2 separate regions of the Homo sapiens genome follow, and region 1 is linked to region 2. Evidence: fine-mapped expression QTL. A gene starts in region 2. The other region holds a variant in brackets. All regions are shown on one strand. Distances are between the middles of the regions.

The links. PIP is the estimated chance that this variant, and not a neighbour inherited with it, causes the effect.
Region 1: its variant is the best candidate, but not a certain one, in a credible set for the expression of VANGL1 in ileum (GTEx, PIP 0.66).

Annotation. Positions count from the first base shown.
Region 1 is chr1:115,671,386-115,676,615 of GRCh38, reverse strand. All of the region lies in intron 4 of VANGL1 (VANGL planar cell polarity protein 1), which reads right to left. Among named protein-coding and RNA genes, the nearest start is that of VANGL1, 32 kb to the right of the region's middle. RefSeq lists an enhancer at 4,676-5,230. The variant C/T (reference allele first, on the strand shown) is at 2,201.
Region 2 is chr1:115,639,284-115,644,513 of GRCh38, reverse strand. VANGL1 (VANGL planar cell polarity protein 1) reads right to left here and starts at 2,544. Exons shown (of 8, transcript NM_138959.3): 1 at 2,428-2,544. RefSeq lists an enhancer at 1,929-2,687 and a silencer at 1,823-2,812.

The DNA of each region.
Region 1 (5,230 bases), 32 kb before region 2:
CACCCACCACTTTCCTGCTTCCTAAAGAGGAGTAGCCTGCCTGGTTTAGGTCTGTGCTGAAGATGAAATAACACATTTTAAAGTGGTTATTCAAAGTAAATAATTCATAAACGATAGCCACCACGAGCTTATATGGCCATATATGTTGAAGCGGCCAACTTGATCCCAGGTGCGCCTGTACCAACCTCCTCCAGAGGCCCACCATGAGGGTACTGCCATGGGAAATGAGCCAAGATGGGTCCACTCTGCACAGTTTTCCTTAGGGACTGGGGCCACAAAGTTATGCTACTCTTTGTTTTTATGCAGTACTTCCTGCCAACTCTCAGCCTCCTGAAAATCAAACCTACCTATAGGGAGGCATCCATTGTAGGAGTACTAGATTCCAGAAGGTCTAGATTCCTGCTACCTACCCTGTAATCCTGTATAAGTCATTTCCCCCTTCTTGGCCTTTTTCTTGGCTTTTGATAAAGAGATAACACCAACCACTGCATGTGGTTGTTGAGAAGAGCAAATGAAATAATGACAGTGAAGGCATTTATAAACTATAATGCATTGTACAAACACAAAAAATTATCGCATTACTAATAATAAGCATGAACATTTTGCAGCGGTGATGGGGTTGGTTGGTGGCTAGAATATACACACAGCTCCTAGCCACAAAAGCATGACCCCATTTCTATTTATACTGAACCTCAAAATTTTAGAAATGGAAGGAATCTTAGTGTTCACCCAAGCAGAGATTCAAGAATCAGAGAAATCAAGAGTCCATCAGTCCAATCTCCCAATCCATATACCAATTGTTTTTTTTAATTATTTTATTTATTTAGGGATGGAGTCTCGCTCTGTCGCCCAAGCTGGAGTGCAGTGGCGTATCTCAGCTCACTGCAACCTCTGTCTCCCAGGTCCGAGCAATTCTCCTGCCTCAAATCCCAAGTAGCTGGGATTACAGGCGCACGCCACCATGCCTGGCTGATTTTTAGTGGAGATGGGGTTTCGCCATGTTGGCCAGGCTGGTCTTGCACTCCTGACCTCAGATGATCCACCTGCCTTGGCCTCCCAAAGTGCTGGGATTACAGGTGTGAGTCACCAAACCTGGCCAATTTTTATTTTTATTTTTGAGACAGTCTCCTTTGTCGTCCAGGATGGAGTGCAGCGGTGCAATCTCAGCTAACTGCAACCTCTGCTTCCCAGGTTCAAGCAATTCTCGTGCCTCGGCCTACCGGAGTAGCTGGGACTACAGGCACATGCCACCACGCCTGGCTCATTTTTTGTATTTTAGTAGAGACGGGGTTTCACCATGTTGCTCAGGCTGGCTCAAACTTCTGGCCTTAAGGGATCCATCCATTTCAGCCTACCAAAGTGCTAGGATTACAGGTGTGAGCCATTGCGCCTGGCAGCCATATAACAATTCTTTTTACAAGCTCCCAAATGACATCCAGCCTTTGCTTGAAAAGAAAGTTCACTTTCACACTGAAACGACCTTTCAGTTCTACCACTGGTTCACCCAATGCCTTGTTCTGAACCCAAGTCCCCCTTGCTGGTGAAAGCCTTTTAGATACTTGAAGGAAACAATCGTGACCATAAACCACCCCCATTTTAACTCCCTTATTTTATAGCTAAAGGAACCAAAGCCTAAAAAAATGTGTGCATACATGCACACACACACACAGACGTACACATGGTCCCTTCTACTTCCCATTCATTCACCCTCCCTTGAACTTGATTGTGGCTTCTGCAATCAAACTTGTATTCTTACATGTTATTAAAATCCGAAATTAACATTGAGCTTTAGAGCTCATCCAGGCTGATGCCCTCACACTTTATGGCCTGCAACTTCTCCCTGAGCAGGGAGAAGGGATGAAGACATCCCCCATGGACAAGTCCTTTTCAAGTTTTAGCCACATCTTTTCAAATATGAATTTGATCCCTTCAGCTAGGTCAATAAAAACAGCTTTCTTCACACGTGGAAAATGTCAAAGTACTTCTTGTATGCTAATTCCCCAAATACATGTCACGTCATTCTTCTTATTACCTAGGTACATGCTGACAGAAAAAGTACTAAAAAGTTTTCTCATCATAGAGTAAAATCTGCAAAGATCTCCTTTTAGAGCATGCAGTCACTATCCTGAAAGCCAGCTAAGGATGCTACATTCAGAAAAATCTTAATAACTAGCCTCTCCAACTCCATCAAAAGCAGTTA[C/T]GAATTATGAGCACCTGCTAAGTCCCTAGTACTGAGACCCGGATGTAAATGAAACCTTCAAGGGGCTTATGCTCCAATTAGTGGTGAGTACCACTCAAACAATAAGTACAGTCAAGTGATCCAGAGACCGTGACAGAACATGTACACCAGGAGAAGAGGGACGGTGTTTCCGCCAGGAATCCACAGTGGGGGCAAAGCTGGGCTGTTAAGTCTTACAAGATGAATGATGGTCACACCAGGGACAACAGGCTGTAAAGCAAATTCCAGGCAGAGAAAGCAGTGTGAGCAGAAACAGGCTGGTGTTAATCCTCCCAAACATCCACAATAGAGCAACAGGGTCAGTGTTCAGTCACAGGACAGCACAACTTGGAGAAACCCGTAGTGGCAAATAGTGTCTCCCAAAATTTGCATCTACCCAGAACTTCAGAATGTGACCTTATTTGGACACAGGGTCTTTGCAGATGTTATGTTTAGTTAAGGTAGAGTCATTCTGGTATCCGTATAAGAAAAGAGGTGGCCAGGCCTCTTTGGCTCATGCCTGTAATCCCAGCACTTTGGGAGGCCGACACAGGCAGATCATTTGAGGTCAGGAGTTCAAGACCAGCCTGACCAACAAAGTGAAACCCCATCTCTACTAAAAATACAAAAAGCAGCTGGGTGTGGTGGCATGCATCTGTAATCCCAGCTACTAGGGAGGCTGAGGCAGGAGAATTGCTTGAACCTGGGAGACAGAGGTTGCAGAGAGCTGAGATCGCACTAAGGCACTCCAGCCTGGGCGAAAGAGTAAGACTCTGTCTCAAAAAAAAAAAAAAAAAAAAAAAGAGGACATACAGAGACCCACAGAGAGGAGGTCATGTAATGATGGGGGCAGAAACTGGAGTGACACAGCCATAAAGGAACACGAAGGGTTGCCAGCAGCCACCAGAAACTAGGAAGAGGCAAGGAAGGATTCTTCCCTAGAGGCTTTGCGGGGAGCACAGCTGTGCCAACACCTAGATTTTGTACTTTCTGAGAAGGAGAACTTTTAAGCCATCCAGTTTGTGCTATACTCTATTACTTCAGCCTTAGGAAACTAAGGGGAAGCTACTTAGGAAACTACTCGAACTTAGGGAAGGAAGGGTGGAGGCAGGTAAGCGGCAAAGCTGGTCAATGGTAATGGAGGCTGCAGATGAATGCAAACGTGAGAGAACGGGAGGAAGGAGGGTCAGTGGACAGGGACAACCAAAGGAGGCCAGTACTGACGGCTGCCCAGGCACTAAGGCCACTCATTACCTACTTTTTAAGGTGTGCCTGCTCTGGTGGCTGCATTTTAGGGCCCAAACCTAGGTCTTTGAGAGAACTCTAAAATGCAGAATCCCCAATACAAGTTGATTCAGCTTTCTGTGAAAACCTGCAGCTAGGGTGCAATAGCTGATGCTTTCAGTTTTACCCACCTGCTGCTTCCCAGAAGAGTCCGTAAGAGCTAAATCTACCTGGACGTGTGGGCTTCACTGCTCCCCACACTTGGAGATAAATGACTTCAGTCTGACAGTCAGGTACATTTGTGGCAATATTTGTGTGAGTCCCAGAGAAGAGAATATAATTAGCCCCTGGACGCTGAACGCCACCGCCTTCACTGACAACCAGGCACATGAGTGTTTATATCTCCTGGCCCTTCTGCCTTTTAATTAAAATGTTTGTCTCACAGCTGCATTTGGGAAGTTAGCTTACACAAGTCCCATAGATAACAGGCAATGATCACCTTGGAACTTGAGAAGGACAAAGAGGGACAAAAACTGGAATTAGCTCATGTTTACTGACAGGTCTGGTTTAAACTGCACAACAAAGGCCTGGACTTGGTTGGACTTTCAAGATAGAGGGGGAGATCCACAGGTTTCTGCTTGAGGTCTTGAGACACAGGAGACTGACCATCCCGCAAAGGGAAACAGATCAGAGGCTCTGTGTGGCTGCTGAGGCCCATGGGAAGGCTCTTCCTCGGGCCACCTGGATTCACTCGTGCCTCGGGCCTGCTGGTGCCTCAGCTACACAAAAGCTTCGGCAGCCAAATTCTTTGAACCAATATCGGAAGGCTGGAAAGCGTACCTGGCTTTTGGTTTGAAATTCAAGCTGTGGACAAGCCCTGCAGGGTATCCCCACTGAAAGATGAACATGCAGATTGGCAGCCTAGGATATCTAATCCCAGAGCGCCAAGGAAGTGGAATCAGCAGGACTTGGGAATCACAGAATGATCTCCAAAGTGCAGTGTGCAGGACACCCAGAGCACTTCTCCATGAGTCCCTAATAATACAAATAAAACTATACCCAGAGCATGCCCGGAGGACACCATTCTCTATCAACACTGGGAGGAGTTTGTGAGAACCAGAAGTAGCTAATAGCTCATGCAATTACCTGGATCTTCTGGTCTCAGCAACTAAGCAATACAAGGTTGTCAACATATGCACCCCTCCTGGGCTTAACACCACGACCCAGTGGCAGTTCTGAGTGCAGAGACACACTGCTGGTCTCCTCCTGAGGAGCTGAGCCAGTTATGGATGAAGCCCTCTGGCTGCCTTCCCCACAGCACAGCGATGCTGGCAGACCTCCCCTACTGGGGCACCTAGGAGACACGCTTCCCTACAAGTGAGGGGCTTGGCTCTGCCACAGTCTGCCTGGGGAGCATGCAGCCCTGCTTGTAGGCCGCGGCACAAACCTCGCCATGCTGCCATTTCCTTACACAGTCCAACCTGCACTGCGCCTCCCCTGCCTGGGATGGGAACTTTGCTCTCTCCACGTCTTAAATTACAGTGATGAATCACACCAAGATAAACAGCAGAGGCATGGGGATCAAAGACAGCAGCCTGCTTAGGGTGCTCTAAGAAAAAGATTTAGATATGGACTCGAAACACCTCCACTCCACCCAGGATGCTGGACTGCCTCGCCTTCCTCCTGAGTAAGCAGGAAGGAGCGCACCATGAAAAGTCTGGAGTCTGAGGCTCCCGGCCTGCCCAAGTGGATCCCGGCTCCCCGAAACCTGGGCTGGAGCAGAGTTGA
Region 2 (5,230 bases):
TTGCTAACAGAAACATGGTCCAATCACAAGCCCACCTAATCTTTTCCATCTTAAGGAAAATAGAATAGCATGATGCCCAAATCACATGCCCTATACAGCGAGACCCTAACCAGCTAGCTGATTTTACAGAGATGATGGTAATAGTCTAACAGTTTCTAGTTGTCAAGTGTTTACTATGTGTTAGATGCTGTTTTAAGTCACTTACATGTAATATCTCACTTAATCCGCATAACAAGTGTTTAAGAAAAATAAGACATTAATATCATGTTAGTTAGGGAAACCAGACTGCCACAGGAGCCAGGGCTTAAACGTTGAGAGTCTAACTCCAGAACCTGTGTTCTTAGCTACAGAAAATTGACAGCACTGTAGCAATTACTAGAATTGTTTGTTTATATAGAGGAGTATAAGCAACAATCACAAATTGTCCCAAACCACATATAACCCCACTAAGAATTTTGCAATTTCAACTTCTACTCACAGGTTCAGTGTTCCAAGCATCGTGGGGCACTCAGGAGAAAAGAAATGGATCTAAAATAGTTCTAACTCCCAATGAGCTCACAGCCCCAATGTGGAGACCTCCAATTAAAACACAATGTGACAAGGGCCCATCCCACCAAAATAGCTGATAAGGCCTAGGGTAGCAAGCACAGTGTGTGTATATAAGTGTGTTAAGGGGATGATGAAGGGGAGGATGCCTTCTTCATTCAACACATTTATCCTTCAAACAAAGGGTGACATGGAATTGTTGCTTGGTAAAGAAACTTTAAATTTCCTTTATGGTTTTGTCCTGTTGCTTAATACATAAGACAATAAAAATGTACTGCTTGGCAAGCAGTCCTTACAAATATATCACTCTCAAAATTCTTCTCCCATTTTACTTACAAATTAAGTTGCAAGCAAGCCTCACTGCCAACATTGTTAATAGTGAAATTCCACACTGAGTGTTTTCACTAATTATACTGAGAGACATCAACGTTTGGGAATGTTTAATGCTCATGGATAGGTGAAGCGTGTTATTTCTTTGAACTGGAAAAAGAAACAGTTTCCTCCCACAAATCAAAGCCCCAACTATATCACATTGATTTAATTCAACCCTAAAAACTCTATAATTAGTGGTTACAGAAAATGGCTAATTACCTCTCCCTGTATTCAGACAATTTCTGCCATCTCACTTGCAGAGCCTGGGAGCTGTGTACTCAACCCACCCACTGACGGGAGAATGCTAATTAGCATTGTTGACTGGTGATACAAGTTATAATATTTTTCAGCAGCCCCGTAAAATTTATAAACATGTCAGTGAAAATGCCAGATTCTTTTACAGTTTGTTAGCTTTTGGACTAAGTGTCTAAGAATACATTCATTTCTAACCAAAGCCAGGTCAAGAGTTTTAACAAAATGCATGGGCCATCTACACAATCATCATCATAAGGCGCTCTAACACTTCCTAAGGAGAATCTAAGAGAGCTCACAACACCTTCGCAGCGTGGGCATTAGACCTGGTTTGGAGAAGTGAAAACTGAGCAACAGATTCCTCAGCTCCAAGTCTCATCTGCTCATCACACAGCAGCCAGGCCGCGGCTCCGCCCCACTGCTGCCGCCACCACGGACGCGTTTAAATTTTTATAAAGCTTCACACTTCTCTAGGCGCGATGCTTGGGGCAGTTCAAAGACTGCAGAAGGAAATGAGGTCCTGCCGGTGGCGAAGGCTGCCCCGGCGCGGTGAGATTTCCTCCAGCAGGGACACCTTGGGCAGAGACCCGCCAGGCGCCTCTGCTCCACCCCGGCGTTTTTGAAAGTAAACTCCTACCTGCCTGTTGCGCTCTCCGAGGCGCAACCGGACTCGCCCCCCAGGCCTCCAGGGCCGGCTCAATTTTTTGTGAGCGAGGTGTGCACACAGACCAGCTCTGTCCCGGTTCCTGGCGAAGGGCCAGGCGGCGCCCGGGTCGAGCCCCGCCAGGGGTGGGAACCCCGGTGCGCGCCCGGCTCCCGCCCTGCACGGCTGCTGCAGCCGCCCGGTGCCTCCAACGCTCGGCCACTCCCTGCCGGCCTGCCCGCCGCCCCGGCACGCGCACCGAAGGGGCGCACTCCAAAGGCCAGCCCGGGGAGAAAGGGACGTCCGAGGTGTGAGCAGGGAACCCCGGGACCCCAAGGAGTGGGGTGCGGCGGAGATCGCACGGCAGGGCCAGGAGGGGCGCAACGCATGGGGAGAAGAGTGGAGTCAGAGGAAGCACTACCCGGAGCGCTCCGGAGGAGGGGAGGGAGCCCCCGGCCCGAGGCGGGAGCCGGCCACCCGGGGTCGAAGTCCGGCGGGGCGAATGCGGGAGGAGGGCGCAGGGGCACGCGGGGTCCGAGGTGGGGGCGTCTCCCAGCCAACGGTCTGCCCCGGGGACCGCCGCCGCGCAGCGCTCGGCCTCTCGCGGGACTCACCTCCGCGCCGGCCGCCCGAGCTCCGCGGCCCGCGGTCTCGGCTCACAGCGGCCCCGGCTCTGCGGCCTGCGCTGGGCTCCTGGAGAGGCAGAGCCCCGCCGCCGCCGCCGCTGCACTGCTGCTTTCCGCTTCCTGTCCCGGCGCCGCCCCGCAGCCCGAGCCCAGCCCTGCGAGCCCGGCGCGGCCGCGAGCCAAGAACAGCTAGCGCTGCCGGCCCCGCCGCGGGGCCGGCCCACCTGCAGCGGAGGGCGGGGCTCGGCCGGCGTCCCCCTCACCTCGTCACCGCCCCGACCCCACACACCCGGGACACACACGAAGGCGTGCGCGGTCACACTCTTACACACGGACCAGGGAATGACACCTCCCACACTCATTCACCCTCATACACACACTCACCCTACACAGACGTGCACAGCCCAGTAACCCACTCTCTTCTGGGCAGACACACACACTATAAACACATGGCCCAGGGATTGATCTCCGACACCGCCCCCTCCCTCCCCCACATACTTGGAATCTCAAGCTCACACACACACACACACACACACAATCATGCACAAAATCCGAGCCCATTTGCCCTCACGAGTGCCCCCATCCACATATTCACACGGCTCAGGGACTAACCCCCCAACCCCACTCAACACACACTCATATACACACTTTCCAAGAACTGACCGACAAATATCCATATACACCATATCTCAACCCATATACACACACTTAAACTCACATGTAGCCCTGGAAATGACCCCACAAATAGACACACACACACACACACACACACACACACACACACCCCCTACAAGCCACCACAGCAAGCCTCTCCCCTCCTCCTCCCTTATCAGAGCAGGCACTGCCGCCAGCCTAGTCTCCTAGAAACTGCTAGATGAGCACATCTCTGCAGGCAGGTAGCTGAAGCTTCAGTGCTGATTCCAACCAGGTACTGTTTCCTTTCTGAGCCTTTGTTTACCTGTCTGAAAAGTGGTGAGGATGCTGCTGTCCACCTTGCAGGATTGTGGTGAGGATTACAAAACAGTTGGCAACGATTTTCATGAATATTTGCACTTTTCTTAGTTGTCTTGTGTTGGTAGCATTAGGGTTCCTTACTGATCATCTCCAATCTAGCTGGGACCCAAAGCTGCTTACGTGGCAGGATTTTCCAGTGGAAGCAGTGTATAATGAAGTGCTGAATTTCCTAAGAGTTGTCTACAGGAGTATTGCGGGCATTTGGGGTGGGGAAATGCAGGCCCACCCTGACTAGCCTTAATCAGGGAACCTTGGCTCCAAGAACCCCTCACTCCCTTGATCACCTCTTCCTCATCCCTTCTAGACTCCATTTTCTCTCGCATATGTCACATTTCCTTGAGAAGACACCCATATGTTCAATGTGGCTGATTTTCACCACTCCTAGTCCCCAGGCTCTGCTGCCCCACTCAGTGGCCTAGACCATCTTCCTCCCCCACCCCCAGCCTCCCAGTAGGCTCCAGAGAGCAGATGTTGCTGACTCAGGCAGCCAGGTTCCTATGGGTAAAGCCAATGGTCTATTCACCCAAATCAGCACTCAGGGTCAGAAATGTAGAACATTATAAAAACATGTCTCTCTCATCTCTAAAATGTAGAACTTTCAAAGTTCAAACAGGCCAGGGATTTCCAATTCTAGTCATGTACCTGAATAGCTCCAATTAACACAGAGATCTTCAATGAGTTTTCAGAAAGTAATTCTAATTCACTTAGGTTCTTATGTCTAGCCACCTTACCAGATGATGTTTTGTGGGAAAGAGGGGTAGTTGCAAATAACCTATTTTAAAATAATAAATTCACCTTTAAATGCCATGTAGAGGCCGGGCTTGGTGGCTGAAGCTTGTAATCCCAACACTTTGGGAGGCTGAGATGGGCAGATCACTTGGGGTCATGCGTTCAAGACCAGCCTGGCCAACATGGCGAAACCCCATCTCTACTAAAAATAAAAAAATTAGCCAGGCGTGGTGGCAGGCACCTGTAATCCCAGCTACTCAGGAGGCTGAGGCAGGAGAATTGCTTGAACCTAGGAGGCAGATGTTGCAGTGAGCTGATATCATGCCACTGCACTCCAGCCTGGGCAAAACGAGACTCCATCTCAATTAAAAAAAAAAAAAAAAAAACATGCCGGGGGACCTGGGCAAGATGGCTGAATAGGAACAGCTCCAGTATGCAGCTCCCAGCAAGATCAATGCAGAAGGCAGGTGATTTCTGCATTTCCGACTGAGGTACCCAGCTTATCTCATTGGGACTGGTTAGACAGTGGGTGCAGCCTACAGAGGGCGAGCTGAAGCAGGGTGGGGCGTCACCTCACCCAGGGAGCGCAAGGGATTGGGGAACTCCCTCCCCTAGCCAAGGGAAACCATGAGGGACTGTGCTGTGAGGAACAGTACATTCCAGCCCAGATACTATGCTTTTCCCATGGTCTTCACAAACAACAGACCAGGAAAGTCCCTTGGGTGCCTATGCCACCAGAGCCCTGGGTTTCAAGCACAAAACTGGGCGGCCATTTGGGCAGACACTGAGATACCTGCAGAAGGTTTCTTTCATACCTCAGTGGCTCCTGGAATGCCAGTGAGACGTAACTGCTCACTCCCCTGGAATGGGGGCTGAAGCCAGGAAGCCAAGTGGTCTAGCTCAGGGGATTCCACCCCCATGGAGCCCAACAAGCTAAGATCCACTGGCTTGAAATTCTTGCTGCCAGCACAGCAGTCTGAAGTCGACCTGGGATGCTGGAGCTTGTTGAGGGGAGGGGCATCCGCCATTACTGAGGCTTGAGTAGATG